Homo sapiens: one gene and its partners. The protein of the gene in region 1 interacts with the protein of each later gene in a pairwise test. Each region holds a gene or a part of one and is shown in the gene's direction. Other genes may lie near its edges. The genes, in order: FAM168B, HSF4, KRTAP26-1 and CSTF2.

Region 1 (8,607 bases):
GATTGTTAGGATACTGCTGAGTTCTTATCAGCAGTGTGAGACGATTTCCCCACAGCCTGGCTAACAGAATGTGTTTTCCAGCTTCTGGATTTCTGCTAGTCGGAAGTTAGTCAGCGTAGTTGTAGTTTGCAATTCTGTGTATCTGTGTCTATTGATTTGAGTGGTGGGGGTGGGGCGGGATGTTTGTTTTTGTGGTTTTAAAAGTTACTTACGTATTAAGTGTACTAGCCCTTTGTCTAAATAATTTAGATACTTTATCTGAATTTGTCCTTTTGCTTAACTATGGTATTTTTTGCTGTTCTGAAGCTTTTACTTTTGTAAGGTGATCAGTCTTTTTTTTTTTTTTTTTTTAAGACGGAGTCTTGCTCTGTTGCCCAGGCTGGAGTGCAGTGGCGCGATCTCGGCTCACTGCAAGCTGCGCCTCCCAGGTTCACGCCATTCTCCTGCCTCAGCCTCCTGAGTAGCTGGGACTACAGGAGCCCGCCACTGCACCCGGCTAATTTTTTTTTTGTACTTTTATTAGAGATGGGGTTTCATCGTGGTCTCAATCTCCTGACCTCGTGATCCACCTGCCTCGGCCTCCCAAAGTGCTGGGATTACAGGCGTGAGCCACTGCGCCCGGCCAAGGTGATCAGTCTTGTAGAAATGATTCAGGTTTGGGATCGCTCTGGTGCCTTGATGTAGGGAGTCTGGCCTTTCCAGCCTACCATGCCAGAAGAGGGCTAGAATAGATGCTGAAGGAGACGGTCTCTGTGTCTGCTGGGGGTTGGGGTACCCAGAAAGATCAGGAATAGGAAGAAACAGTGATTCTTAACTCCATTGCTTGGAACCCTGCAGATTCACTGTCTGGAGAGAATGAGAAAAAAGAGGCTGGTGCACCCGAGACCAGCTAAAGCAGTGTTGGGGGTCCTCCCAAAGCTGCCCCTGTGGGTTTTGTGCAGTCCAGGTAGAAACCATTGGAGATAGTGAGGGGAGCCACGCTGCGGCTTGGGTCAGAGTGGTGACAGAGCAAGTGGGATGTGGCTGATGGGATGAGGCGATGGGAGCACGGAAGCAGCAGAGGCTGTCTAGGAGATTGGGAGTCTTTGATCCCCATACCAGAGACCAGGTATGTAGTGCATCTTGTTGCTGGTGGCTAGTGATGCCATCTTAAATACTATCGTGTGTGTTTGCTGTTTCATTATAGGATGTGTTAACTTCTTGTTAGAAACTGGGGGGCCGGGCGCGGTGGCTCGTGCCTGTAATCCCAGCACTTTGGGAGGCCGGGGTGGGCGGATCACGAGGTATGTAGATCGAGACCATCCTGGCTAACATGGTGAAACCCTGTCTCTACTAAAAATACAAAAAATTAGCCGGGCACGGGCCCCTGTAGTCCTAGCCACTCAGGAGGCTGAGGTAGGAGAATGGCGTGAACCCAGGAGGCGGAGCTTGCAGTAAGCCGAGATCACGCCACTGCATTCCAGCCTGGGCGACAGAGCAAGACTCCGTCTCAAAAAAAAAAAAAGAAAGAAAGTGGGGATGGGAAGGACTAAGCAAAGAAGACAGTAGTTTTTCAGGGACCGTTAAACACAATCTTCAGCAAACAAATCCAGAGCAGCCCTCTTCCCATGAGAATATATTGGTAGAGTTTTAGGGAGAGATGAGGAATTTGGAATTTCTGGAAATTATTGCAGAGGCCTACAGGATATGATCTAGGTCAGTGGTAGTTGAAACTTTTTTTTTTTTTTTAAAAGAAGGAAACCATTGGAAAAAAAAATCTTGCTGGTTCCCTGGTCTCTGAGGGCAGTTCCAGACCTTTCTTGGTCTTCCTGTGCTCACAATTGGGCTTCTGAGGAGTCTCTCAGCATCCCCAGAACTGCTGTCCTGGTCTTTCCAGTGGCCATTGTGGGTCTCTTTGAAGTTGAATCTGCCCTTGACGTCCACCACACTCTGTTCTCTGACTAATTAGAGAGGGCAAACGGGAGGGTGAGAGTCCAGGAGGGAAACCCGGAATGGCTTCTGCTGAGGTAGAGGGGGATCAGTTTGAAGTGAGGAAAGCAACTTTGAAGCAAGGATAAAGATGAGAACTGGGCACTTGGAGGGATTCTGGGGCTAGGGCTTGGTGACACTGATGCCTCCTGTTCCCACAGAAACCTGCAAGATGGCTTAGGGATGCAGGGCAATAGAGCAAGGGATCCAGGCTGAGGGGGCCGAAGGGAGGCACGTGAGGAGCTGTATTCAGAACTTTCTGTCCCACCTACAAAGATTTTCCTTTTGGCATTCCACTCAGATCCCCCCTGTTTTTACCTCAACCTTAGGGCTTCCTTGCTTTGGTTACTGTTAGCACCATGATTTGTTCCTAAGGGATCGTAACACCTTAAAAATCCCAGTCCAAGTGCTGTAAGAGACACCTTTCTCCAGGCCTCCTCAACACAGTTTCTTTTGAAGACTGCTCTTCTCTTTCAACTTTATTTACAGGTGAAGGAAGTGTGCAGTAGAGAAGTTACAGCTTCTCACAGCTAGTGGGAACAGTAATCAAGGCTAGGAAACCTGAGTCATCTTGTTGGCTGTGTGCCCCAAATAGAAAGAACGCTTTCTGGCCAGGTGCAGTGGCTCACACCTGTAATCCCAGCACTTTGGGAGGCCGAGGAGGGCGGATTATGAGGTCAGGAGATGGAGACCATCCTGGCCAACATGGTGAAACCCCGTCTCTACTAAAAATACAAACATTAGCTGGACATGGTGGCGTGTGCCCGAAATCCCAGCTACTTGGGAGGATGAGGCAGGAGAATCGCTTGAACCAGGGAGGTAGAGGTTGCAGTGAGCCGAGATCACGCCATTGCACTCCAGCCTGGCAACAGAGCGAGACTCTGTCTCAAAAAAAAAGAGAGAATACTTTCTAATACCTCAGCTGTCACAAGTGATGCCTCCTGTACTGTGAGCCAGAGGGGTCAGCCCAAAGGGAAGGGAGGCCTTATCGAAAAGGGCAGATGCCTGAGGCCCCCTCTGTTGGTTGCACCTTGGGGCCAGGATTCTGACTGTAGCACTCAATGTCTTATTTGATGTTTCTGTTTCGTTCATATTATGAATTACTAGGTCATGGTTTAGTCTTAATAAGATTCCTCATTTGTATTAATAAAGGTCAGCTTATTTGCACGTGGACTGTAGTTGGATTTTTCCCATTTCTGTGTGTATGCATTCCCAGTTAGAGCTCCTTCTGTAAGAAGACTGAAGCTTAAGTAAGACACAGCCTGGGTTTATGACTGGTGTCTTAATTTGTTTTCTGCTGCTTTAGCAGAATATCAAGCTGGATAATGAACAGAAATTTATTAGGCTCTTGGTTCTGGAGGTTAGGGAAGTCCAAGAGCATGGCGATGGCATCTCGTGAGGGCTTTTGGGCTCTATCCTCTTGTGATGGATGGTGGAAGGGCAGCGAGTGCGTCAGAGAGAAAGGGGGCTGAACTTGTCCTTTTTATCAGGAACCCACTTTCATAATAAAGCCGTCACCTATTAAATGTCCCACCTCTCAGTGCTGTTAAAATGACAAATTTTAACGTGAGCTTTGGAGAGGACATATGAAAACATATTAGCTGGTCATGCTGGAGAAGTTGGGGATCAGAACATCAAAATATGGCAAGGCGTGGTAACTCATGCCGGTAATACCCGCACTTTGGGAGGCCGAGGCAGGTGGATCACCTGAGGTCAGGAGTTCGAGACCAGCCTGGCCAGCATGGCAAAACCCCATCTCTACTAAAAATACAAAAATTAGCTGGGCGTGGTGGTGCACGCCTGTAGTCCCAGCTACTAGGGAGACTGAGGCAGGAGAAATGCTTGAACCCAGGAGGCGGAGGTTGCAGTGAGCCGAGATCTCACCACTGCACTCCAGCGTAGGCAACAGAGCAAGACTCTGTCTTAGAAAAAAAAAAGAACATCAGAATGTGAAAAAACCTGAAATGAATTTAGAAGTTTAAAACAGTTTCTTACAACAAAAAATAATAGCTTTTAAGTCAAAATATGTAATGTAGGAAATGTCGGAATTCAGTGAAAATGAGTGACCTTTACATAGGCTTAGCTGTTCACTGGTAGCAGCAAAAATAGGCCCTTGAGTCCAAGCTAGACTTGAATTCTGATTCTTCCAGACTTTGTGCAGTGAAGTCAGATGAGGGTAACAGGACCTAGCGTGTGATACCCTTAGCACTCTTACTACTCTTGCTAAGTAATTATGTGATTAGAGTTTGGAATGAAACTTCCAGAAATGTTATAATTGAGGCTTGGCGCGGTGGCTTATGCCTGTAATCCCAGCACTTCGGGAGGCTGAGGTGGGTGGATCATGAGGTCAGGAGTTCGAGACCAGCCTGGTCACCATGGTGAAACCTTGTCTCTACTAAAAATACAAAAATTAGCTGGGCGTGGTGGTAGATGCCTGTAATCCCAGCTACTCGGAAGGCTGAGGCAGGAGAATCGCTTGAAACGGAGGTTGCAGTGAGCCGAGGTCGCGCCACTGCACTCTAGCCTGGGCAACAAGAGTGAAACTCTGTCCCCCTCCAAAAAATAAATAAAAATAAAATATATAATTGTTACCTATCAAAATTCTGAGGGAAAGCCAGGCGTGGTGGCTCACACCTATAATCCCAGCACTTTGGGAGGCCGAGGCGGGTGGATCAACTGAAATCAGGAGTTCAAGACCAGCCTGGCTAACGTGATGAAACCCCGTCTCTACTAAAAATAGAAAAATTAGCCAGGTGTGGTGACACACACCTGTAATCCCAGCTCTTCGGAAGGCTGAGGCAGGAGAATCGCTTGAACCTGGGAGGCAGAGGTTGCAGTGAGCCAAGATCATGCCATTGCACTCCAGCCTGGGCGATGAAAGTGAAACTCTGTCTCAAAAGACGACAACGATAAAAAAAACAAAGTTCTGCGGGAAGAAGACAACTAGAGACATGCTGTTGGCCACACATAGTGCTCTTGGGGCTGCTTAAGTCTGTGGAGTTCTGGGGAAGAAGGTAAGAGCGATGGCTTTGCAGGAGCTCTAGTGATTGTCGCTACTTCAGTTGATGACATGAGATTGTTCTTTATTTTTCTTCAGCTGGTTTTCCCATGGGCTATGCAGCAGCAGCTCCTGCCTATTCTCCTAACATGTATCCTGGAGCGAATCCTACCTTCCAAACAGGTATGTGCTGGGTGGTAAAATGCTTTGTACGTACAGCTGGGAGAGAAAGGTGAAGGGGTGGATTTTGAGAGGGGTGGGTATAGAATTAGGACTTGGTTGAGTCGATTTCTCAAGTTCATTAAGTTAGCCTGTTGATAAGTGCAACAAAAGCTTAATTCTTACTGCACTGAAGCTTTATATACTGTGTTTCTCATGTCCTCCCACAAGGCAAATCTGTAATCACTAGGTTGTTAACTCTGCCAGAGCATCTGTTCATGAAATAGTATCACCTACTAGAAATTGAAGAATTTCTTGCCATGCCAACAGGTGGAATTTCCATGTTAATGTTTTTAGAGATAATTTTTGGTTAGACTACTTTAGCACTCTGATAATATTTTTTAAAAAAGTATTATTTTCCATGTAATGTATAGATGAATATTTTTAGATTTTGGAAATCACTGTTAATATTAAAAGTGGAATTGGTTTGGGTCTGAATCTTGAGGAGATTGGTTATTTAGTGGGATTTCCTGCTAGGAGCCTGCACTCTCTGGTGTTGGTTCCTTTTGGACTTTTTTCACCCACACGGGGCTTTGCCTTTCTGCCGCAGCAGTGGTGGTGCACACTCTGATCTGAGGCTGTGGTTTGGCCTTAATCCTGGGACTGCTGGGGCAACTTTATCCCTCAACAGTAGCTTCACACAGTTAACTTTGACAGAGGAGGAGACAACAGCAGTGTCCTTTCCCCAGATTCTTCCTGTTTTGTTAATCATAAAATTCTGCCTTTATATTCTGTCCTTACATCCATCTCTTCGTTTCCATTTCCACTTCCACTATGACCCTATATGACCACCCTTGTTCAGACCGTAGTTCACACCCTGAGAAAAACGTTCTTGACTTGGTCTTCCTGCTCCCAAGCTTTCTTTCCCCGGGTTAGTGTTCTTCCCATTTAAACCAGAGCGATGCTCCCAGATGAATTTTTCTCAGTGGTTTCCCATGACTGTGAGACACAGTTATGCCTAGAGTCTCGACTTTCAGTCCCTAGCTGTTTGCCATATTGGCCCATTTTTTCCCTTTAGAGTGGTTTTCCTTTTGTGTTTTGCCTTGAAAGAACCATCCATCTCGTAGTGTATATTAGCAGTTCATTCCTTTTTATTGTTAGGTAGTATTTTGTTGTATGGAAATAAATACTTCAGTTTGCTTATCCATTTACCATGTGATGAACATTTGGGTTATTTGCAATTTTGGGCTATTACAAATGAAAATGCTATTAATATTTATATGCAGGTTATTGTGTGAACATACACTTTGATTTCTCTTGAGTAAATAAATACAGAGGATTTGAGTGGCTGGTTATTATGGCAAGTGTATATTTAACTTTGTGAGAAACTGCCAAACTGTCTTCCAAAGTGGTGGTACCATTTTACATTCCTACCAGCAGTGTTTGTGAGTTGTCGTTCCTCCACATCCTTAACAACACTTGGTGTGGTCAGTCTTTTTAATTCTAGCCATTCTAGTGAATGTGTAGCAGTATCTTTTCATGTGCGTATTTGCCTTCTGTATGTCTTTGGTGAAGAATTTGCTTTTACTGTATGTCAGTTATTGTTTTCTTATCGTTGAGTTTTTGAGAGTTCTTATCAGATATATGCGTGTTTTCTCCCAGTCTGTGGCTTTTTCATTCTTTTAACAACGTCTTTTAAAGAGCAGGGGTTTTAAAAGTTTAGGCTGGGCGCGGTGGCTCACGTCTGTAATCCCAGCAATTTGGGAGGCTGAGGCGGGTGGATCATGAGGTCAGGAGTTCGAGACCAGCCTGGCCAACGTGGTGAAACCCCGTCTCTACTAAAAATACAAAAATTAGCTGGGCTTGGAGGCGCACTCCGGTAATCCCGGCTACTAGGGAGGCTGAGGCAGGAGAATCACTTGAACCCAGGAGACAGAGGTTGCAGTGAGCCGAGATCGTGCCATAGCATTCCAGCCTGGGCGACAGGGTGAGACTCCGTCTCAACCAAAAAAAAAAAAGTTTGATGAGGGTTAGTCGTTTTATGGATCATGCTTTTGGTACCATACTTAATAAACCTGTGTAACTTGGCTGGGCGCAGTGGCTCACGCCTGTCGTCCCAGCACTTTGGGAGGCCGGGGTGGGTGGATCATGAGGTCAGGAGATCGAGACCATCCTGGCTAACGCGGTGAAACCCCCTCTCTACTAAAAATACAAAAAATTAGCTGGTCATGGTGGCGGGCTCCTGTAGTCCCAGCTACTCCAGAGGCTGAGGCAGGAGAATGGCCAGAACCTGGAAGGCGGAGCTTGCAGTGAGCCGAGATTGCGCCACTGCACTCCAGCCTGAGCGACAGAGCAGGACTCCGTCCCCAAAAAAAAAAACAAAAGAGAAAGAAACCTGTGTAACCTAACTTCACAAAGATTTTCTTCTTTTTTCTTGTAGAAGTTTTACACTTGTAGGTTTTACATTTATGTCTGTGACCCATTTGCAGTTAATTTTTGTGTATGATGGTAGGAATGGATTGAAGTTTATATCTTTGGCATACGTATCAATGTGGCATGTGATGATCATGCCGTAGACCACCATAACGTAAGTTACTCTTCTAGGATTTTCAGAGGTAGCCCACTTTTACTCATTTCTTCATGGAGCACAAATCAGTGTGAAAATGTACTTAAAACTTTCAACTTTTTTATTTTACAAGAAGAACCTTGAGTTAATTTCAGGCTGAGAGCTGTTCTTGCCAAAAATGTGCAGCACTGCCTAGCAGAGGCAGGGTGGAGACTGAGTGCTGCTGACACCTTCCCCCCTTGGGTGCCTGTGGGGGCCACCCTGTGGAACATGGGCCACCCATCTCATTATTATTTTGAGACAGGGTCTTGCTCTGTCGCCCAGGCTGCAGTGCAGTGGTGCAATCACGCCTCACTGCAGCCTCGACTTTTCAGGCTCAAGCAATGCTCCCACCTCAGCCTCCCGAGTAGCTGGGATTACAGGTGCACACCACCACACTCGGCTAATTTTTCTATTTTTTTGTAGAGATGGGTTTCACTATGTTGTCTAGGCTGGTCGCAAACTCCTGGGCTTAAGTGATCCTCCTGCCTCAGCCTTCCAAAGTGCTGGGATTATAGCCGTGAGCTACCATGCCCAGCTTGTCACCCATCTTCTCGAACATCTCTCCTTTCTCATAGGGAGGTAAGGCCTGTGTTGTCCCTTTTCCAAGACTGCTCTCAAATTGTTCCTGTAATCCAGAAGCTGGGACAGGCAGGTAGCAACTGCAGCTGCCCAAACGGCCTACCTTGTTTAGAGGGGCATCTGCTGACGGGTGCCAGGCAGTTGTTAGGTGCCAGACTGCTGGCTCACCAGTGCCAGATCTTCTGGTCTTGTAGGAGAAGCTGTGAAATTGGTGAATGAAAAATATAAGGCAGCCGGGCACGGTGGTTTTCATTCCTGTAATCCTAGCACTTTGGGTTGCCAAGGTGGGCAGATC
Region 2 (8,852 bases), on another chromosome or scaffold:
TGGTTATGGTCCCACCCCAAGGGGTGGAAGTGGGGACCGAACAGGACCATTGTCTGCCCATCAGGTCTGTGGGGGTCGAGGGGGAGGTGGGGAGTACTGGGAACCTGGAGACTGGGGATGCTTTCTCACACTCACTAGTACTAGAAGATGGGGAAGGTGAACCAGGCTGGAGGTCGAGTTAACAGGGTAAAGAGGCCAGGGCCCTAGTTTCGCATCCGCCGACTGGCAGCTCTTCTTACGTGTTCTTTCACGGAAGCCCCTCCTTGGGAAGCCCCGCGCCCCACCCACCAGGAGTCGTCCCTTTTTGGGCGGGGCTGAGGCTTCCAGGCTGGGTCCTGAGAAAGTTTGGTGGCCGGAGACTGTGGGGCGCTTAGGTACCGACCTAACAACTTCTGCGCCTGTTTCCAGGGACGAGCCACGCACGGTGCCCCCTGAACACCTAACAGTCCCGGGGGCAGCCCCACCTCTGGCTGGGTGGACAGAGACAGCCTGTGGGCGTGGCCCAGAACTGAAAGCCTGTGACTCCTTGCGACCCGCCGGGCACACCCCCTACTCAGCTACGCAGCTCCCGAGCGCTTGAGGGGAGCTTCCCAGGCTCCCACTAGCCCACCCTCAAGCTGGGGTTTCGCACGTGCGATCGGCTGGGGTGGGCAAGGGGGTCTCCGCTCAAGGAAAGTATTCAGAACCAGCCCCTTCTCCCCCACCCTCTCTCCTGCAGGGCCCTACTGCACCTCGAAAGTGCTGGCAGGGACGAGGAGCCTGCGGGGGCCAAATTCCGTACCGTCCCCCGCCTCCCACGGTGTTCGAACAGCTCAGTAGACCGCCGCCACCAGCTGGCTGGAGCAGCCGCCGGTGACATCTGCGCCGCGCCCACGCTTCGGAGCCAAGATCCACCTCCTCTCCCGCCCGCACCGGGGAGCCCACCCACCCACCTGCTGCACTAACCTGGCCGCCTCGGCGGGGCCTGGGTTCCCACGCCCGCCAGGCTCCGCTCTACTCCGCCGCTTCCGGGTGTGCGCGGAGGCGCTGGGGCGGTGCCCTAGCCCGAGCCGCCCCGTCCGCCCGCGCGTCCCGCCCCGCGGGCTCCCGGTGGCTGCTTCCCGTCCGCTGTCCTCTGCTGCCAGTCCCCTGCCCCGGGCAAAGCCCATCTGGTCCGCCGAGCAGGTAAGACACCAGCGCCCAAGGTTAGACGGCAGGAAGACCCGACTTTGGGGGTTTGCGATTCTTACGAGGCGGGGGGCTCGTAAGAGCTACAGCTGCCAGACTTCGGTAAATCAAGGGGGCGCCCCCTGGAGACCAGAATTTTCTGGTACCCCTGGGGATCCGGCTTCAAGATCGCTGCTACCAGTGGGCACTCAAAACGGGGTGCCCATGGGTCCCAGGTACAAGCCCGGCCGAACGTATCTGAAGCCCCAGGAAACACGTGGCACAAATTCCGGGAGAAACTGTTAGCCCGGAAGATATGGGAACATTAACTGGCGAGTAGTGTGAAGCCTTGTGTACACAAACCTTTAAGAACCTTAAAACAAGATTGGCGGCCGGGCGCGGTGGCTCACGCCTGTAATCCCAGCACTTTGGAAGGCCGAGGCAGGTGGATCACCTGAGGTCAGGAGTTTGAGACCAGCCTGGCCAATATGGTGAAACCCCGTCTCTACTAAAAATACAAAAATTAGCCCGGCGAGGTGGCGCGCGCCTGGAGTCCCAGCTACTCGGGAGGCTGAGGCAGAAGAATCGCTTGAACCCGCGAGGCGGAGTTTGCAGTGAGCCGAGATCTCGCCACTGCACTCCAGCCTGGGCGACACAGCTAGATTCCGTCTCAAAACAAAACAAAACAAAAACAAACAGGATTGGCAACTTCAAAGAGGACGCACACTTTCCAGTAACCCATCCCCCTCTAAAGGCTGCGCTCCAGGGTGGGTCTGCGGAGTTCCAGCCGAACCCAAATTGCTCAGCGGGAGCCAGGGCTGCTCAGGGGTCGGAACTTAAATCTTGAGCCCCTCAGGCCCCAGAACCGTCAGGTCCCAGAGACCCAAGTTTTTTTTCATCCAGTGGGGCTGTCTTAGGAAGCACCCGGGACATCTCCCCGGCGAGGCGGAGGCGGGGAAGGAGCCTCCCCTCCAGGGGTGGATCCAGCTTTGCCCCGCCCACGCCTCGCTTCCTGATTGGCTCATGGTCCCTGACAAAGAAAAGCCTACATTAACGCTCCCGCCTTATTAACCCTGTAGTCACTTTCTACTAACCGGCGGGGTTAAGATGGGGTTTCTCAGGCCGGGCGCGGTGGCTCATGCCCGTAATCCCAGCACTTTGGGAGGCCCAGGCGGGCCGATCGCTTGAGCCTAGGAGTTCGAGGTCAGTCTGGGCAACAAAGCGAGACCTCGTCTCTGCAACAAAATTACAAAAATTAGCCAGGCGTGGTGGCGTGCCCCTGTAGTCCCAGCTACTCGGGAGGCTGAGGTGGGAGGATTGCTTGAGCCCGGGAGACTGAGGGTGCAGTGAGTTGTGATTGCGCCACTGCACTCCAGCCTGGGTAAAGAGCGAGACCCTGTCTCAAAAAAAAAGAAAAAAAAAAAAAAAAGTGGGAGGGGAGTTCTCAACGTGGAACCTGTGGAGTCACAGGGGCTTGTTGAAATGCAGATTCCTGGGCCTTACCCTTTCCGGAGAGCCTGATTTAGTAGGTGAGGCGGTGAAATCTGCTTTGTGAACAAGTTTCGGGGTTATCTGATGCCCCACGCTGTCTGAGAGGCCCTCAGTTCCTCAGGCCACAAGCATTTGTACACCTAAGCTCGGTCTTCCTGCAACACTTTGCGCCTTCCCGACCTCAGAGACGTCCGTCTCTCTCCAGGCCGGAGCTATTGGGAGTGGCGGATCCTCCCACCCCAGCCGGATCTGGGCCATGGCCGAGCCTGGAGAGGGACTGCCAGAGGAGGTGCTGGCACTCATCTTCCGCCACCTGTCCCTGAGAGACCGTGCTGCCGCCGCCAGGGTCTGCAGGGCCTGGGCCGCCGCTGCTACCTGCAGCGCCGTGTGGCACGACACAAAAATCAGGTGAGCCTGCTCCTCCACACTCCTCTCCCCACCGCCCACTCACCTTCTCCGTGGAGTCGTGGGCTAGGTAGATATTCAGGTTGACTCCCCCATATTAAAAAATAATTGCTGGCCGGGCGTGGTGGCTCATGCCTGTAATCCCAGCACTTTGGCAGGCCGAGGCGGGTGGATCACCTGAGGTCAGGAGTTTGAGACCAGCCTGGCCACCATGCTGAAACCCCGTCTCTACTAAAATACAAAAACTAGCCGGGCATGGTGGTGGGCGCCTATAATTCTAGCTACTCGGGAGGCTGAGGCACAAGAATCGCTTGAACCCGGGAGGCAAAGGTTGCAGTGAGCCGAGATGGCACCACTGCACTCCAGCTTGGCGACAGAGTAACAGTTTATCTCAAAATAATAATAATAATTGCTGACGTATTGACTGCCTAGTATATACCAACCATTGTTTTTAAGTGCCTTACATATATTAACTAATTTAATCCTTATGAAAACCTTGTGTGGTAGATAGGTATTATCATTACCTCCATTGCCCAGATAGGAAACTGAGGCAAAGAGACTTAATCACTTCCCACGGGTCACTCAGCTAGGGAATGGCAGAGGCAGAATTCGAACCTAGCAGTCCGGAGGCCATGCCAAGACTCCTTAGAGACAGCTGAGAAAGCCCAGTTCCTAAAATATCATTGGCTCTCCATGTCCAGGTTTCATCCTGTGGCAGACGCCACTGAAATCTTCTAAAAGGATAGGATGCGAGTTCCCTCCTTTGGGGCAACAGTCGTGGTCTGAACAGAGACGTGGGGAGGGAGGCAGGAAATGGGATGGCAGCTGGAACCCCAGCTAAGGGGTGGGTAGAGGCTTCTCCGCTGGTCGCAGGGACTCAGCTGAGGCCTTTTCTGCACGGCTCTAACCCAAGTTGCGAATGTGAGCTGGAAGGCATGCTGCCACCTTATCTGTCCGCCTGCCTCGACCACATTCACAACCTACGGCTGGAATTTGAGCCATCGAGGAAGCCGAGCCGCCGGGCGGCCATCGAGCTGCTGATGGTTCTGGCGGGCCGTGCCCCGGGGCTGCGAGGCCTGCGCCTGGAGTGCCGCGGAGAAAAACCGCTCTTCGACGCGGGCCGCGACGTCCTGGAGGCTGTGCACGCTGTATGCGGGGCGGCCAGCCAGCTACGCCACCTCGACCTGCGGCGCTTGTCCTTCACACTGGACGACGCGCTGGTGCTGCAGGCGGCGCGCAGCTGTCCCGAGCTCCACAGCCTTTTTCTGGACAACAGTACCCTAGTGGGCAGCGTGGGTCCCGGCTCAGTGCTCGAGCTACTGGAGGCCTGCCCGCGCCTGCGCGCTCTCGGCCTGCACCTAGCCAGTTTGTCGCACGCCATCCTCGAAGCACTGGCGGCGCCAGACCGAGCGCCTTTCGCGCTCTTGGCTCTGCGGTGCGCGTGCCCCGAAGATGCACGCGCGTCCCCGCTGCCCAACGAAGCCTGGGTCGCGTTGCGCCGCCGCCACCCTGGGCTGGCAGTGGAGCTGGAGCTGGAGCCCGCGCTGCCCGCTGAGAGCGTGACGCGCGTCCTGCAGCCAGCCGTCCCCGTGGCTGCGCTGCGCCTCAACCTCTCAGGCGACACCGTAGGCCCAGTGCGCTTCGCAGCACACCACTACGCCGCAACCCTGTGCGCGCTCGAGGTGCGCGCAGCCGCTTCGGCCGAGCTGAACGCCGCGCTGGAGGAGCTGGCGGCGCGCTGCGCGGCCCTGCGCGAGGTGCATTGTTTCTGCGTGGTGAGCCACTCGGTGCTGGACGCCTTCCGCGCGCACTGCCCGCGCCTGCGCACCTATACCCTCAAGCTCACGCGCGAGCCGCATCCCTGGAGGCCTACGCTCGTGGCGTGATTGGGCGACTTCTCTCCCCCGTCCCCGTGGACGTAAGCGCTCTGAGAGGGAACGGGGGGGGTGTCCAGGCGCGCCCCGAGTGCTAGTGCCTTCTTTTGGGATTGTTGCCCCCCGGGTCTTTACCGAGTTGGGAACTGTGATGGCATCGGGACCAGTCCTGGGCGCCCTGAGACCACTCGCTGCTCTCACCCTCTGCAGACGCCCCACCCGCTCGGTCCTGGACACACTGCCCCCCTCTCTTGCCTCCACCCCTCTGCGGACTCTGCAGCTCCGCGGCCCCGGCGCAGGGAGAGGGAGGGCACGGGCGCGGGCCGGGCCTCAAGGGTGAGTGTGAAATAAACAAATCCTGCAGTGTTTCTGCGTCCTATTAAAGGCGGGGTCGGATCTGAAAGGGAAGGACAGGGAACGCGCGGGGTACCGGAGGAGCCATCCCGGCAGAGGTTGGGTTTCCTCAAGAGCCTCTGGACGACACAGCTGCGGGGGGTCAGGGTCGGGGCACTCACACCCTTGGAATGACTACGTCCCGGGGTTCGGCGGGAGGGGGCGTGCTTCCCTGCCCCCCCTTCCTATCTGCTTGCCCTGCCTGGGGCTTCACTGTGCCTCTGGCCATTACCTTCTAGGACTTGCCCAGCCCACACCAGGTCGCGCACCGGCGATTTCTCCTGTAGAACAAAGAAGGAAATAGAGGGACCGAGAGGGGTGGGACTCGAACCCAAGTCTCCCACTCATCTCACCCCACCCCACCCCACTCCACCCCACCCCACCCCTCCACTCCACTCCACTCCACACATCCCATCCAGCCAGCCTTTTCTGCCTGCTGGTGCCTCGGCCGCTGTCCGAGCCCCGCCCCGCGGGCTTGCACGTGGCCCCCGCCTGACCCGGCGCCCCGGGGCGGAGTAGGGCGGAGCGGGCGGCAAACGCAGCACTTTCCGCGGCTTTGACGAGCCCGCAGCGGCCGGGCCCGAGCGCAGAGCCGGGCCGAGACTGCACCATGCAGGAAGCGCCAGCTGCGCTGCCCACGGAGCCAGGCCCCAGCCCCGTGCCTGCCTTCCTCGGCAAGCTATGGGCGCTGGTGGGGGACCCAGGCACAGACCACCTGATCCGCTGGAGCCCGGTGAGGGCCGGGGCCCCTCGATTCCCCCTGTGGTCCCGGGGTCCCTCCACGTCAGTGAACACCCATGCCCGCCCAACCCCCTCCTGAGACTGGGCCGTGGATCCCCGGATTTGGCCATTCAGAGAAGTTCACCTTGGAGGGGGTGTGCGAGAGGGGGGTTTCCTCTGCGGCCGAAGAAGGGTTAGGAGCCTGCCTTCTGAAGACCTAGAGTCCGAGGGACCTTCGAGGCCATTTAGTTCCCACCCTACCCCATCCGACAGATGGGAAAACAGAGGCCGGGAGATGGGAAGGGCTGGTCTAGCTCAGGGTCACATTGCGGGGCTGGGAACCCCGTCAGCCTCTCCTTTCTGAGAACTGAGTATGGAGTCAGGGTCTGGCTGGGGGTAGGGACTCACTGTGGTCGCTCCAGGCTAGGCCTCGGAGCCCGTTCTGGCCTGGCCTCGACCCATATCCCCGTAAGCGGCAGGCCTGGACCCAAGAGTGAGCATGAGTGTGTGCGCGCGCTGGAGCGCAGGACTGGCCGTGAGCGGGCACCGCTCACCCTCCTGGTCTCCGCCCGCACGGTGGGCGGGCGGCGTTCTTGGTAGAGCGGGACCAGTTTCCTCGTAAGCGACCAGAGCCGTTTCGCCAAGGAAGTGCTGCCCCAGTATTTCAAGCATAGCAACATGGCGAGCTTCGTGCGCCAACTCAACATGTGTGAGTCCCTACGGCCGGGCGGGGAGCGGGGATGGGGGACTCGGTGCCGGGGATGGGGCGACCCACGCCCCCACGCCCCACTCCCCAGACGGTTTTCGGAAGGTGGTGAGCATCGAGCAGGGCGGCCTGCTTAGGCCGGAGCGCGACCACGTCGAGTTCCAGCACCCGAGCTTCGTGCGCGGCCGCGAGCAGCTACTGGAGCGCGTGCGGCGCAAGGTGGGGGCGGCCTGCGGGAATGAGCAAAGAGGAGGAGGGGTGCTGGGACTGCCTGCCTTGCTCCTGCGACCCAGTCCCGACGGTGCCTCCCGCCTGCAGGTGCCCGCGCTGCGCGGCGACGACGGCCGCTGGCGCCCGGAGGACCTGGGTCGACTACTGGGCGAGGTGCAGGCTTTGCGGGGAGTGCAGGAGAGCACCGAGGCGCGGCTGCGGGAGCTCAGGCAGTGCGGGGGCGGGCGGGGAAAGAGGGGACAGGGGTGGGGGGTTCGGGATGAGACCATAACTGGCCGGCCAGCAGTTCTGGGCAGCCCCTTCCTCTCTCCTGCCTTGGCGCCTCCATCTAGACTTATGGGCGATCTCTGGGATGGCCAGTCAGCGGGGTGGTCTCCTGGGTCCCCAGCCTCGCCATTCTGTGGGGGGTGGTGACTGGGCGAACTCTCAGATGCCTCAGCACCCTCCCACCCCTTCCTCAGGCAGAACGAGATCTTGTGGCGGGAGGTGGTGACACTTCGGCAGAGCCACGGTCAGCAGCACCGGGTCATTGGCAAGGTGTTCCTCTCCCCAAGCCTCGCTTCTCCCTCCCACTCCTCGACACCCCATTCCACCGCCCAGTCCCCCGGCGCCCCTGTTAAGCCTTCCTCCCTCACCTGGAAGTGCGGGGGTGGGGGGGCTGTGTCCAAAGTATGAATTAAACCTTTGCTTTCTCTTCAGCTGATCCAGTGTCTCTTTGGGCCACTTCAGGCGGGGCCGAGCAATGCAGGAGGCAAGAGAAAGCTGTGAGTGAGAAAGCCAAGAAGGCCCACACCCACTTCCAAGACCCCCCAGAAGTCCCCTTGCAAGGACCCCTTCTCCTCTGGAAACTCCTTCACCGGGAATCCTCATTCCTCCCCCTGCGCTACAGGCTTCCTCACCCCATCTAGGATCCACTTCCCCCCAACTCTGCCACCTGGTATCCCCACTCCCAGATCCTCCCATTCCAGGACCTTATTCCCAAATTCCTACCCCAGCAGCCCCTTCCCCCTCCGGCAAGGCTTCCCAACAGCTGAGACCCTGGGGCTCAAACCAGGTTCCCTCCCTCCCCTCTCTACCCACAAAGGGCCCCCATCTCTAGGGGGAGCCCCTTCCACCTCCAGCATGTGACTGACACCCTAGCAACAGGCCTCAGCTCTGCTGACTTGGCTGCTGGGGCCTGAGGGAGGGAGGGAAGTGCAGGCCGAGGTGCATGGGGGCTGACCCTGCCCCACCCCTGCCTGTGCCCTGATCGACCACACAGGTCCCTGATGCTGGATGAGGGGAGCTCATGCCCAACACCTGCCAAGTTCAACACCTGCCCTCTACCTGGTGCCCTTCTGCAGGACCCCTACTTCATCCAGTCGGTAGGTTTGTCTTCTTCCCCCTTCCCAAGGGCATGGCTGGGCTTATGGAGAGCCTGTTCCTTCTCCCCATCCCCTAAAAGGAAGAGAAGATGGAAGCCAGCCTTCCCCCCAACCAGACCCAGGCCCTCCAGCATGGACTGAGCCTCCTCCCTCAAACCTTCTCCCTTAGACCTGGCCCAGGTGGGTGTTGGTGGGGTTCTGGCTCTCCCTGTGCCTACAGGCCAAGGGCTGGGCCTAGCCTTCTACTTACAGCCTCTCCCAGAGACAAATTTGGGCCTTAGCCCTCACAGGGCCAGGGGCCCCATCATCTCTGACATCCCAGAAGACTCTCCATCCCCTGAGGGGACCAGGCTTTCTCCCTCCAGTGATGGCAGGAGGTAAGGGGGACAGGGCTGCCCCTGAGGGGCCTGTGGGGGAGGGCCTGGCAGCCCAGATGGCTGTAGGGGTAGAGGGAGAAGTCAGTGCCAGGGTCTGGTTGAAGCTTTTCTCTGGTGCAGGGAGAAGGGCCTGGCACTGCTCAAA
Region 3 (7,306 bases), on another chromosome or scaffold:
TAAAATCATATTAAACATCCAACCATAATGATATTAAACCACCAAACTAGAAATCAGTAACAAGAGGAAAATTGAAAAATTCACAAATATGTGAAAATTAAACAACACACTACTGAACAACCAATAAATCAAAGAAAAAATCAAAAGAGAAATTAAAAAATATTGAGACAATGAAAATGGAAGCACAACATTCCAAAACTTTGGAATGCATCGAAAACCATTTTAAGATGTTTACAGCAAAAAATACCTACCTGAAAAAAGAAAGATTTCAAACAACTTAACTTCTCAAGAAGTTAGAGAAAGAATAACAAACTAAGCCCAAAGTCAGCAGAAGAAAAAAAAATAGAGCAGAAAAAAGTCAAATAGAAAATTTTTTATAAAATTAGGAAGATTTGTAGAAGTAAGGCTTGTTGTTTTTTAAACATTTCCAAATTTATTTTACAAAACCAGCATTACCCTGATACTAGTGTTGGTCAAGGATAATAAAAGATAAAACAGAAATGAAAACATAAACTGGAAGCCAATATGCCTGATTAAGATAGATGCAAAAGTCCTCAACAAAATACTAGTAAGCAGGATTCAATGGCACATTCAAAGGATGATACAACATGATTAAGTGAATTTTATTCCTGGGAGGCTAGGATGATTCAACACATGCATATCAATGAATGTGATACACCAAATTAGCAGAAAGAAGGATAAAAGTTATCATCCCTATGGATGTAGAAAAAGCATTTGACAGAATTCAACAAACTTTCACGATAAAGACTTTAACAAATTAGGCACAGAAGGAATATACTTCAACATAACAAAGTCCATATATGACAGACTCACAGGTGAAACACACAATGGTGAAAACCTAAAAGCTTTTCTCCCTAGATCAGGAACAAGACAAGGATGCCCACTCTTTCTACTTCTATTCAATATAGTACTAGAAGTCCTAGCCAGAGCAATTAGTCAGAAAAAAAAAAAAAAAGAAAATCACCCAAATCATAACGAAGTAAAATTGTCTCTGTTTGCATGTGACACGATTCTATACATTAGAAACCCTAAAGACTCCACCAAAAAACTATTAGAACTAGTAAATATTAACAGGCAACCCAAAAAAGTAGGAGAGAATCTTTACTGGGAAGTAGAGAAGGGCCAGACAAGTGTCAGAACAATTCTCTGTTGACAAAGAGAAATCATCCACTTTTTTGAGAAAGAGAATCATATGATGAAATTAATTTCATGAGTATTATTTCAAATGCATTATTTAGGCAAAATAGAAGACCATAGGGACAGAAGTCAAAGGTGGCAGTAGGAAATTCACTGAAGGAGAACAAAAAAGCCCAACTTAAATCATTGCCATGATAACAGAAAGAAAAAAATGGAAAGAAATATATAATTTTAGAAGATAAAGGGAGAAAAGCATAACAGGTTTTCCCACTTTCCAATCTATGCTGCAAATTAACCTCAGCACTCTCTTCTTGAAACACATTACTGGATCACCACACCTTTAGAACAATATCTTAACTACTTCCCCCAGTAATTTCAACATGTGAATATGAGTTTGCTTCTTAGAATCCTTCACTGGGAAGCTCTATGTTGTCATTTTCTCTACCTTGACATCTTCTTCCATAGCCTAAAGTGTTTTCCTCTTCTCCAAAGCCCCTTCCATCTTTCAAAATTAATATCAAATGTTAAATTTTTGGTAAGGTGAATGAACTATGTTTGCTCTTCTCTGTACATTACTTACGGAACTTAGTAAACACTGACATGGGTTATGTACCTGTCTTATCACGCTTACCAGATAGTGTACATCTGAGAGCAGAAACCAATTTTATGTTGGTTCCATTGCCAGCATCTATCATAATGTTTTGCACATACTACATGCTCAATAATATTTGCTGAATGGATGAGTTAAAAGTACCTTGTTTATTGGCACAACTTTATTGTTGAAATGTTCTGGGGATTTTTTGTCTCCAAGACAGAGAAACTCAGAATTCTCCTTCTACAGTAGGAGAGACAAAGATCCATGGTTTATTAAAAAAAAAAAAAAAAAAAAAAAAAAAGCAACGCCATGGGTAAATCTGGGAAATCACACAGGATGCCCAGTTCCTCCGATTATCCCTGGGCTCTTAACTCAGAAGAGAAGTCTGAAACATGTAGTTTATAGGATCCTGCTAATGAGGTACCTGGTATTATGCCCAAATAAGCAATTCTCTATTAGTGACACAGCCACTATGAAATAATTTTAGTTCAACCTATATTACATGAAGGACAACTTATATTCAGGGTACTTCACTTTCTGAAGATCTGTTGATATTTTTGCAATTTTACCCCCCCACCGCCCCCCCCCCCCCACACACACACGAGAAACTCATGGTGGTGCTCTAAAGAAATTAAACCCAAGGTCGTACTCTCCAGAATGGGTTAAGAACGCCAAAGCAAGAAAATAGATTACTCTTGTATAACGTTTTACAGTTTATTTTAACTTTTAATGACATCTCAATATATTCCTGAAATGTCACTGAAAAGTAGATACTATTAATATTTCCATAAAATTATACTGATAGTGACTGGGGAGCAGAGCAATTATGCAAATTACCCAATTCACACGGTTATTGGTTATTAAATGATAGTATCAATGCATCTCTATGTAATGCCATATTGGATAGAGAAAAACTGTTTGGGGAGTCAAGGAGCCTTTTTTCAGATGTTTTTCGTAATACCTATTACTGCAACTTTCTAAAGCTCAAGTTTTCTCGTATGAGTACTTGAAATAGTAAGATCTACTGTATAGAATTGTGAGGACAAAGTGAATGGCACATGTGGGCACCCACAGCACAAGGTTCTTCAGAGTAGGCATTCCATGAATGCCAGTTTCCTCTTATTCCACACCCCTTCTCTTCATGGAAAACCATCCATGTATACATAGAACATGTAGTATATACATCTATCCACACATACACACAAGCGTATTGATGTACTAATGATACAGATGTTGGGCTCTTGTTTATATTAGAGAAGAGCAGACATAAAAAGGATCAACATACAATTTCATAAGCATTCAGCTAAATATGACTGTACCTATTACTAACGCCATTCAGCTGATGCAACCAGGATTTTACAAGAAGACTCTAGCAGCTGTATACACAGAGTATTAGGTGATGTCCGAAGTATACAAAGTATCCGGTTATACAAACAGTATTAGGTGATGAGGGCCTGGGGTTGGGGGTTGGAGTGAGTGGGGCTTTCTCAAATACATCAGGTACAAATCGTCTGACCTAAAATACTGAGATAAATTCAACATGTTAGTACAGGACCTCCGGGATTATACCATTTTATTTTTATATTTCTCCCCCAGTAGTAAAATAGTCTAGTGTTGTCTCATTGAGAAACCAACTTTCTGTTTCAGAGATTTCACTCCTCCAGGACAGAGGGAGACTGGATAAGCACAAGTATGTCCCTCAAACACCAAAATAGAAGAAAGTGTTATGATTTAAATTGACTAGCCAAAAGGAATTGGAACTTAGAGCCAGCAGATAATTTAAAATCCCATTAAAATAGCTACTGGAGCCACTGGGTATGTCAGTATGAGAAAAATATAGAGGGATAGTTGAAACTAACTAAAATCATACATTTTTTAAAACAATTTTACCAGAAATACATATTCTCAAATGACCTTTAAAGTACTAAAACTTAGGAAAACAATAATTTATCCTGATGCTTTTCCCTATGTAAAGCAGTTTAGAAGCTCCTTTTTGGAAATTGACATCAAGGCCAATGTAGAAAGCAAAATAAATTCATGTCATAATCAGTGTATTTTTTAACCAAGAACAATATTTTTTCAGTTGGAATATGAGAAACCATGCAATACATAACCTTGAAATAATCATGAAAAATGTCAAGATGCCTGACTTTCTTTAAGAGGTCTACTTCTCTGCTTTTGTTCACAGTAGGATACATAATTTTAACTTGGCCCAACTTCATTATCTATATTCAAGAATATCTTAAACATAAGCCAAGGTTTCAGCTTCACTCAGCTTATTTATTTATTGAAATGACTAAAATGAGCACATATTTTTGAATAAAGATATTTTGGTAGAAAGTCAAGTCTGAATAGAATTCTGAAATAAAGCAAATCACAACTTAGAAAAATAAATTCTAACCAAGCAAAACATATTGAAATTGTCCATATTTCTGTCATATAGTTTGCAAGGATTTTCATTTTCTCTTATACTTGTTCCAAGTTACTCACTTCTGGCAATTTCCAAGAAGAATAGAATTTTTCTTCAAAAAGATGTAAGTTCTCACTGTTTCAAAGAAGTTGCTACAACTTTCAAAGACAATTCTAAGAGAGGAATCTTAAGAATGTTTGTGCAATGGTGGTTATAATTGGAATAAGCACATAGGCTTTAAAATGTGTCTGTTTTGTTTGGATAATTTAAGAAGGATAGATCCTATTAAAACTCAGTCGCATTGGTTTATAGATAGACGTAATCAATGGATGGCATTGCAAGGAGCATCCAGTTTTATGGAGGGTGGAAGCCTCACTTCCTTGGCTATAATAAAGAGTTCTGATGCATCTTCATACAACAAGAGGAAGAGTCTGCACGCAGAAGCACCACCTTCTAGGGATAAATAAAGGGTCAAGCTAAGGAAGGGCAGAACAAACTTCAGACACTCACTTCTTTGCCTCAACTTCAGCCTGCTCTCACAACCTCACTATGTCTTGCCCCAACTACTGCTCGGGAAACTCCAACTCAGGATCTCTCAGAACCTCCCGCCATATTCCTCTCACCTCCATCGACCTCTGCCCTACCAGCGTGAGCTGTGGAGATGTCCTCTACTTACCCACTAGCTCTCAAGACCATACCTGGGTCACAGACAACTGCCAAGAGACCTGCGGTGAACCAACCAGCTGCCAGCCGGTCCACTGTGAGACCGGCAATCTTGAAACCTCTTGCGGTTCTTCCACTGCTTACTACGTGCCCAGGCCTTGCCAAGGAAGCAGTTTTCTTCCTGCTTCTTTCTTCTCCAGTTCCTGCCTTCCAGTATCCTGTAGACCACAGAGGTATGTGTCCAGCGGCTGTCGTCCACTGAGGCCGCTGCTCAATAGTTACCAGCCCATAGGAGACTGTGTGCCCAATGCCTATCGCCCCCAATTCTGCTTGTCCAAGAGTTGCCAGCCCCAAAACCTCCTCACTTCTGGATGCCAACCCTCGAGTTGCTTGGCCTATCGTCCTCAAAGTCTTCACGTTGTGTCCAGCAGCCTCAGACCTCTGGGGCCTCTGTTCAGTGGTTGCCAACCTCTGACCCATGTGTTCAGCACGTGTCGTCCATCTTGCTCTGGACTGTGAAACCAGCAGCTTCTTTGTTCCAGTGAATAATCACTCTGAGCATCCACAACAAAAATTCAAACTCCATGGACTTTTGCTTCTTTGCTAGTAGCAACTGATGTTTCTTAGTTTTACTGTGCCTGATCTAATGCAAGCTGCTTCTCTCGCATGTTTTATCTTGTTTTCATCTTTCCTTGACATCAAAAAAATTAGTTTACAATGCTATTCAATGTTGCTCTGGTCTGGGAAGAATGTATTTGTTTTGCACTATAATAAATGCGATTAAGTCCAAATTAAGAATCTGGTTCAGCGCTTTGTGTTTCATGACTTAATTTCAACACAGAAATAACCAACGTCAATTGCTTGCAAGATGACTGAGCTGGACAAGTGATACTCAACCATATATTCTTACCTGACAGTAGAGGGATTGTTTGATGGTTTATTCCTTAAGCTGCTTTTTAGACTTCTGACCCTATGTACTTGAGAGACCCAAAAAGTCCTTGGGAAAGCTGTTTTGAAAAGGAAAAATTAGGAGTGATGTCTCTTATCTCTCTACCCCATGAACACACTTCCACCAGAATGTTCTTTCTAATTGCAAACCTAACCAAGTTTCTGCTTACGCCTTTGATGGCTTCCTATAATCTATTCCCATAAGATAAATATTCAAACCTCTTAGCATGACACCTAGTTCCCTCACTGTCTTTCTCCCCCATACCTCTCTGGCTTCATGCTCTTTTGCTCAATATTGCAAATAATAAAACTAAGCTCCTGCGATCCTGACTTACACATGGGTCCCCAAACATATGCTTTTTACAGTCATCCATCCTTTTGCATAGGTCATCATCGAGAGCGGTATGTTCTTCAGCTCTGTTTTGAAAACTCATACTTGCTTTTACAAAAACACAGTCTTGAGTTCATTAATTAATCTTTTGATTTATTCAGAAACAAAGGTACTGCTTGCATACTATATGCCAGGCACAAAAGATACTGAGGTGAACAAAACAGTCCTGAACTATCACAGAATTTGCCAGAAGTTATAAGCTATGGGACATGTAACAATTAAAGATACATTTTTTCTCTCACTCAACCTAAAATGTGTGGGGGCATATATTTCATTAATTAAAAGGAAATAAAGTTTTAAAAGCCTGAATATTTACCTTTTTGAGGAACTGGAATAGCTAGAAAAGCTAGAAACTGTATCACTGTGCAAGAAAGTGATTGGCAGGCAGCTCGCAGTAACTCCCAGCTGTTCCCTTTAGACAGGGCACACACTTCTGGTTCTCAGTTCAATCTTGCCCTAGAGACTTCCTGACAATGAAGCAGAATGCCAGTTCCACTTACTATCATGATCATGCCACTGTTGTTAATTTCATTCTGGTTCATTATTTGCCTTATTTGCTTGCTCTCCTGGATATTTTGATTTTGTGACATCTGTATCCCCTATTTTTTGAAGCCTTTCCCCGGCCCTCTCTGTGCCTCTTACCCTAATCACACATTGGCTCAGCCTGAATTTTATCTCAGCCATATGTCTACTGTTAATCTTGTTGAACTGTTATTTTTAACATCATTTTAAATGAGATTTTAGTTAACATATAACATACATAACTAATTTTTGCATGTTCTTGAACTGTAAAATGAAATTATAAAGTATTTACCCATTGGTGTCTGTCTTCTTGTACTAAATATTATGTGTGATTTTTCCATATTGTTATATGTACCAGTAGTCTTTTAATTTTTTGTGTACATAATATTCAAGGTTAAAACACCAAAATATATTTATACATTCTTTTGTTGATGAGCCTTTGGGTTGTTTCTAGTTTGGATCTATTAGAATTAGTGTACAGAATATTCTTGTATTCTTCGGCTATATTTTAATACACATCTGTATCTATTTCTATTCTGCAATATGTGTAAGGGTGGAATTAAGTTATGTAGGATGTGCTTGTTCAGCTCTATTTTACACCATTACAAAGTTATCCTTG
Region 4 (6,237 bases), on another chromosome or scaffold:
TCTGACATTATGAACATCTCTGCCTCACTTGTGGGATAGGGCCCTTTGGGACAAACTACCTGTATCTGATTGAACTAGGGTAGGGGGTGGCCCTGTGAATGTAACTTCCCCAGTGGACCAGCATACATTTTCTCTAGACTCTGTTGGCTTTCATTTGTATTTCCAGTGAGCACTAGTTTCCAGGGTGTTCTCAGTTTTCACTGTGCTTATTTGGCTGAATTTTGATTAATTCAGTGGTATCCAGTTGTGCTGTGTAATATTTGTTGATGATGCTGGAGGTGTTGTAAGCAAGTATGTCGAACTTGCTAGTTGATCTCTGGCTAAACCCTGCCTTCTGCTATTGCTAACAGTAGAAAATGATCTTCAGAGTCATTGATTTGCTTTTTTTACTCATATCTGTATAGAGATCATAATTTGTCACATTATTACTGAATTCAGGTTACCTATACATTAAAAATGCCAAAAATCTCTCTTTTCTCTTTGTACACATAGGTCCCAGTCATGCAGGGAACAGGAATGCAAGGAGCAAGTATACAGGGTGGAAGCCAGCCTGGCGGCTTTAGTCCCGGGCAGAACCAAGTCACTCCACAGGATCATGAGAAGGTAAGCAACACTGTCTGACTGCCTCCTTATGCACAATTCTAGCCTTTTTGATTCCTCTTTTCACAGTTACCATGTGACGATCCTGGGTCTTCAAAGTCCCTTTGGAGGTGATGTTTATTCTAACTTAGAACTCTTTTATGATCTTGTTACCTGAAAATTTGTGAGTCTGGTCCTGAAGTTCCTAATGGATGTGAAGTTCTTAAGTGGATGTAAATGGCAGCTTATTTTATATTTCACACTCATCTGCCAATAGCAGGTTTTTCTTGTTCAGGCCAGATTGACCTGAAAATCCACACCCTTTTTCCTTCCCTTTCTACTTTATCCCTAAAAACAATAGTAGATTCCCCATGATTATATCTTTCTGTTTTTATATTTGACCATTGTGGGGAGCTTATGTCTGATGGAAAGGCTAAAATTTGTGAAAAAGAGAGACTTTCAAAACAGGATTAAAACTTGAAGGATTTCCAGGGCTCACAGATACCATCTTAGTCTCCAGGAACTTTGAGTTCATGAAGTTGTCTGTTTTGAATCGTCTAATCTTAGGTATTTTAATTTATACTTGTTCTTTTCATTGTACCTTTTCTCACCAGTTTTTTTTTATTTTTTATTTTTTTTGGAGGGGGGCTGTTGGTTTTTTTCTGTGTGAAATGTTCTTCCTTTTTCCATTTTGCTTCATATCCCACTACAGTAGCTTTTTGGACAGAAGCTGGTGGTGGGTTTTTTGTTTTGTTTTGTATTTTTTAGCTGCCATCATTAAAACTCACTACCTTTTTTTTTTCCTCTGCACAGGCTGCTTTGATTATGCAGGTTCTACAACTGACTGCAGACCAGATTGCCATGTTGCCTCCTGAGCAAAGGCAGAGTATCCTGATTTTAAAGGAACAAATACAGAAATCCACTGGAGCACCTTGATAGGTGAGCAAACTTAATCCCCATCTGAGTAGGACTAGCTCCTTGTCTATTCTGGGTATATACTTTTAACCTTAACCAACAAGATTGTTCTCTCAGCGGCCCTCAATCCACTCAGCTAGACTCTTCTTTACCCTTCAGTAGGTCAGCTCCTGTAGGGATAGAGTAAGGCTATACAATGTTTGTTCAGTTGTTGAATTGCTTATAATCTTTCCTAATGACAAAGGTAATGTATGATCAGTTTAACAAAAGTAATCATATACAGAAATGTAGAAGGTGAAAGGTAAAAAGCCCTGTTTCCTCAATCTCATTCCCCAGACAAAACCTCTAAATATAGTTTGGTGTGTATCCTTCTACAATCAATTGTATTATTTTATTCCAAACTGTCCTGTCAAAATGGAAAAATACAAAGCATTTCAATAAAATGTGTAAATATTTTGTTTCTTGTATTTATTTTATAGGGAATATTTTGATGTTGAACTATAGTAGCACATAATTTAAGGTAGTAAATGTCCGTCATCACCATCAGTTTCTATATATTTTGGAGATCGCTGTACCCTGCTACCCTTATTTTTCTTGCTCATCATTTAGGCAGAAAGAATCCAGGGGCCAAGCACAGTGGCTGAGCCCTGTAATCTCAGCTTTGGCAGGCTGAGGTGGAAGGATTACTTGAGACCAGGAGTTCAAGACCAGCCTAAGCAACATAGTGAGACCCCATCTTTACAAAAATTTTTTAAAAAATTAGCCAGGCATGGTGAGATGCGCCTATAGTTCCAGCTACTTGTGAGGCCGAGGTGGGAGGACTGGTTGAGTCCAGGAGGTCAGGGCTGCAGTAAGCCATGATTATGCCACTGCACTCTAGCCTGGGTCACAGAGTGAGACTCTGTGTCAAAAAAAAAAAAAAAAAAGGATCCAGGTAACCTGCTTCATAAATAATCATGTGACAACTTGATTACACATACATGTATCAGTGTTTCTTTTTTAAAAAAAATTTCCCCAGCATTTTGTATTTTATAAACAGTTCTTTTTTCTAAAAACAGTTTAAAATTCATGTTGCCCCACTATCAGGTAGGACAGCACAATTTAAATTTCTACTTTTTACCCCATCCATATTATAATTCCTATTCTTATGTTATATAATAGTGAACTCATTTAACTATTAATAATTACCACTCTTACAAAATATATCATTTTAATCCATACTTGTGATGTCTTTAAACATTTAAACTGCGACTATGCATCATATATGTATTTAGACCTTAAATGAATTAATGAGAAGCTATCATAGATAGAAGGCTCAGTAGACTTTTGGTACCTTAACGTTTTATTCCACAAACCCCACATATTCTTTTTTTTTAGTAAAAGTATAGACTACCTATTACATTCAGAGGAATAAATAAAAATTATTTCTTTTACTAATTTACTTAAGCCAGAGAAGGCATTCCCTACAATGTGAGAAAATTACTCCTTACTGTTTCTGGATAGTAGAGGTAGAAATGTTTCTGAAATTTCTTTCATTATAGTTTTGCTTATAGGATGTTTAATTTAAGGCCTTGCATATTAACCACAAGGCAAAGTTTTTGTCTATTTTTTTACCTTTTATTTTTAAATAATCATAGACTCAAGGAAAGTTGGAAAAATAGTACAAGGAGTCTCATGTACCCTTCACCCAGTGTAGTGCAAAACCAAGAAATTGACATTGGCACATTACTGTTAACTTGACTGCAAACTCAGTTTTCACCATTTTAAAAAAACTATCATGATTTGTGTATATGTATGTGTGGTTCTATGCAATTTTATGTGGGCAAGATTTTATTGTGTGTCTACTGGTGTTTGTGCATACCATGGCTAAAGTGTTGGGTTTTCCTCCATCCTATACCTAGCTAGTTGTGATCCATCTCTGCCATCATGGACAGGCTTCTATACTGTTGTCATTAGAGATGAATGGTTCTCAAACAAGGGCAGTTTTGCCCCCTAGGTGACATTGTCTTGAGACGTTTTTGGTCATCACAACTTTAGGGAGTATGGCATGCTACTGGCATTCAGTGGGTAGAGGCCAGAGATACTGCTAAACATCCCATAATGCACAGGATGGTCCCCCTCACCCACTTCCCAATAGCAACTAGTACTCCAGCCCAAAATGTCAGTAGTGCTGAGGTTGAGAAACCCTGCTGCAAGGGCTGATTGCTTTGAGGAGTCAGGAGGCAGGAGACAGATACTTTGCAAATCTGTCCTGGTGATTTGATTATATGCCTGTCCTCCCTCCCCTAGCCTTTTTATTTTTTTTCCTGAAGTTTTTCCGGAAGAGAGCTTTGTCTTCACTTCTAATGGCTTTGTCCTAACTTCTTCTTACAGGTTTTCAAAAATACCTGGCAAGAAATCTGGAAATTCTATAATTTTGTTGAAATATTGAAAAAAGATGACCTGCATCCTAACCCTTGAATGACTCAAATCAGTGCCAGGTGGAGGACTCCCATCACCTTCTCTCAGAACAAAATCACTTCATTTTATTGTCTTAGTTTGTATATTTTCTGTGACTTGAAATAAACTTTGAACACAATTTTAGTACACTGCAAATTGATACACATGACCTTTTTGCTTTTAAAAAGCTTAACACTAAGGGTGAAACCTTAGATGTGTTTTCTACCCTTACTGCAGTATTGTACTTTAACATATTGCCATAGTTTTGTTTTTAAGTTAACCACTTATTCTTCTTGATGATATTTGAGAATTTCTCAGAAGCAATGTTTTCTGGAACTTGGTTTTTGTTTAGTTTGCTTCCAGTAAGAATTATTATAAGGCTTTGCCCTCTGAAAATATTCTAGCACTTCGGAGTCTTCTAGGAGAAAATATCACATGCTTAGAGCTATAAAATGGTCAGAAGGCTAACAGAGCAAAGAGCCTAGCACAGCTGTGTGTTTAGTTTAGAAAAATCCAAATATCAAAATGCATTTGTTTCAATAGCAGGTCTGAACATGTATAATTCAGAGTTAAGACAAAAATTGTTTTAGCACTGGTTTGAGTGTGTCAGCAACACAAGAGACTGTTGACATTTACTTGTGTGTTCTTAAACTTATCAGTCTAGGCAGTCAACTTTGAAAGTTTAAAAAGCCACTGATTTTTCACATGCTCAAGATGAAATAAAAACAGAAATCAAATGAACAAAATACATTTCATCCTATCTTCCAGGCAGTCCCTAACCTGCAGCCCTACCCTGTAACTACGTTTATTCTGGGAACTTACAACACAGAAAACCCTAAAACTTGTACATTCTTCTCATTTTAAGTGGACCAAATGTAGAGCACAGTCAGATTGCTCATTAGGTCTGCTCCTGCCTGCTTCCTTGCGGATAGGTATGAACATAATTAGTGCCATTAGCTCTAATCTATGGGTCTTATTGCCTAGTATTTCTCTCTCTCGCCGCGCCGCCGCCTCCTCCTCTCCCCCCACCCCAACCCCATCTCTCTCGTAGTGGCATTAAGGAGGAACATGGTTTCTCTCTATCAGGCCAACCTCAAGAGGTTAAGAGTTGCCTTAATAATCAGTAAAGTTCTACTGGAACTACTTTTGAGCCAATTTATATTCTTGGAATTCTATCCCCTGGGTTAGGATTATGGTCAGGTGAATTAAAAGCCTGGCATAGGCTTAGAGAATGTAATAGCATATTGCTTACATGTCAAGCAAAAGAATGCAAAGATAATCAACTTTTTGAGTGACAATGAAATTGAGGGATTTTCTACTCATATAAACATTTATAAGAAATTTGTTGATTAAGGTATTTCATATTACAACTTTGCAAGAAAAACTTGCTCAAAGCAGGTGAGGAGCTTTCTGTGTATCCTGCTCATCCCCAGTTCAACTTGGATGTTGGCTATGCATAGGATTTATTATATTCATTACCATGAATATAATCACGAATTTATGCCTACTCCCATAAATATTCAAGCCTTGGGATATTGATTTTGGCAGCCATCATATCTTGAAGTGAGTGTGTCAATATATTTAGACATGGAGACCAAGAGTGATGCCTTTCTCATTAGGAACTCGTTGTAAGTTTCAAGATTCCAAATCAAGGTCATTGAAGATGAAGTTGTCATTTGGTCAGTAGTTGTCTAATAAGAATCATGTCTTCAAGGTTTCATTGTGCATTTTCCCAAAGCCTTATTAAACCTGAATTAGCTGAAATCCGGGTGAACAAATTGGCAACAGCAGTGGTATCCCTCCCTATGTAAACAACCATCAGTATTGTTTTACTGTTGTAATAAATGAAACATGATTAGCCACCATGAGTTCATGACCTACCTTTATTGTGCTCAGACTAGTGACAAAAAAAAACCAAAAACAGTTTTATCCCTCAAGCCGTAGAGGTTCCTAAACTATTAGAAACAACCATTTGTTCATTCGTGGTCACTTAATGGTAGAAAAAATAGATAATATAATGCTAATTCAGTACAACCATTCTTCTAATCTATAATGAGTTGAATTGTCTGGGCACAATGAAGTGTGAGGTTTCTCTCTTAAGAGCCCTGGGCTTCTCTCCTTCTAGGGATTCACTGTGACGACTAACATCCCAGAGCCAGTGTGGTCCTTGTAGGCCGAGGTTGGGTAGATGGCAGAAATAAAAAGCATTCTGATAGAGAATGAAGGCATTTTGCTTATGTTATTAGCTGAATGATTCCTTAGCGATATAGGTAGGAGTCCACAAAAATCTATGAAAATTATAAA

What was found.
Region 2: the proteins of FAM168B (region 1) and HSF4 interact in binary tests that used the Homo sapiens proteins (3 or more experiments, as listed by UniProt).
Region 3: the proteins of FAM168B (region 1) and KRTAP26-1 interact in binary tests that used the Homo sapiens proteins (3 or more experiments, as listed by UniProt).
Region 4: the proteins of FAM168B (region 1) and CSTF2 interact in binary tests that used the Homo sapiens proteins (3 or more experiments, as listed by UniProt).

The regions. Positions count from the first base shown.
Region 1 is NC_000002.12:131,068,397-131,077,003, reverse strand, and holds part of FAM168B (myelin-associated neurite-outgrowth inhibitor), read left to right. Parts: intron 1-634; exon of another isoform or gene 635-4,982; intron 4,983-5,065; coding exon 5,066-5,149; intron 5,150-8,607. UniProt on the Homo sapiens protein: Inhibitor of neuronal axonal outgrowth. Acts as a negative regulator of CDC42 and STAT3 and a positive regulator of STMN2. Positive regulator of CDC27.
Region 2 is NC_000016.10:67,158,893-67,167,744, forward strand, and holds the start of HSF4 (heat shock factor protein 4), read left to right. Parts: upstream 1-5,852; 5' UTR 5,853-5,919; coding exon 5,920-6,042; intron 6,043-6,629; coding exon 6,630-6,738; intron 6,739-6,826; coding exon 6,827-6,954; intron 6,955-7,053; coding exon 7,054-7,178; intron 7,179-7,427; coding exon 7,428-7,503; intron 7,504-7,665; coding exon 7,666-7,730; intron 7,731-8,227; coding exon 8,228-8,330; intron 8,331-8,568; coding exon of another isoform or gene 8,569-8,582; coding exon 8,583-8,707; intron 8,708-8,827; coding exon 8,828-8,852. Other genes in the region: FBXL8 (F-box/LRR-repeat protein 8), read left to right, coding at 2,894-3,045, 3,956-4,928. UniProt on the Homo sapiens protein: Heat-shock transcription factor that specifically binds heat shock promoter elements (HSE).
Region 3 is NC_000021.9:30,317,442-30,324,747, reverse strand, and holds KRTAP26-1 (keratin-associated protein 26-1), read left to right. Parts: upstream 1-4,432; 5' UTR 4,433-4,712; coding exon 4,713-5,345; 3' UTR 5,346-5,624; downstream 5,625-7,306. UniProt on the Homo sapiens protein: In the hair cortex, hair keratin intermediate filaments are embedded in an interfilamentous matrix, consisting of hair keratin-associated proteins (KRTAP), which are essential for the formation of a rigid and resistant hair shaft through their extensive disulfide bond cross-linking with abundant cysteine residues of hair keratins.
Region 4 is NC_000023.11:100,836,847-100,843,083, forward strand, and holds the end of CSTF2 (cleavage stimulation factor subunit 2), read left to right. Parts: intron 1-492; coding exon 493-603; intron 604-1,392; coding exon 1,393-1,515; 3' UTR 1,516-1,518; intron 1,519-3,867; 3' UTR 3,868-4,674; downstream 4,675-6,237. UniProt on the Homo sapiens protein: One of the multiple factors required for polyadenylation and 3'-end cleavage of mammalian pre-mRNAs. This subunit is directly involved in the binding to pre-mRNAs.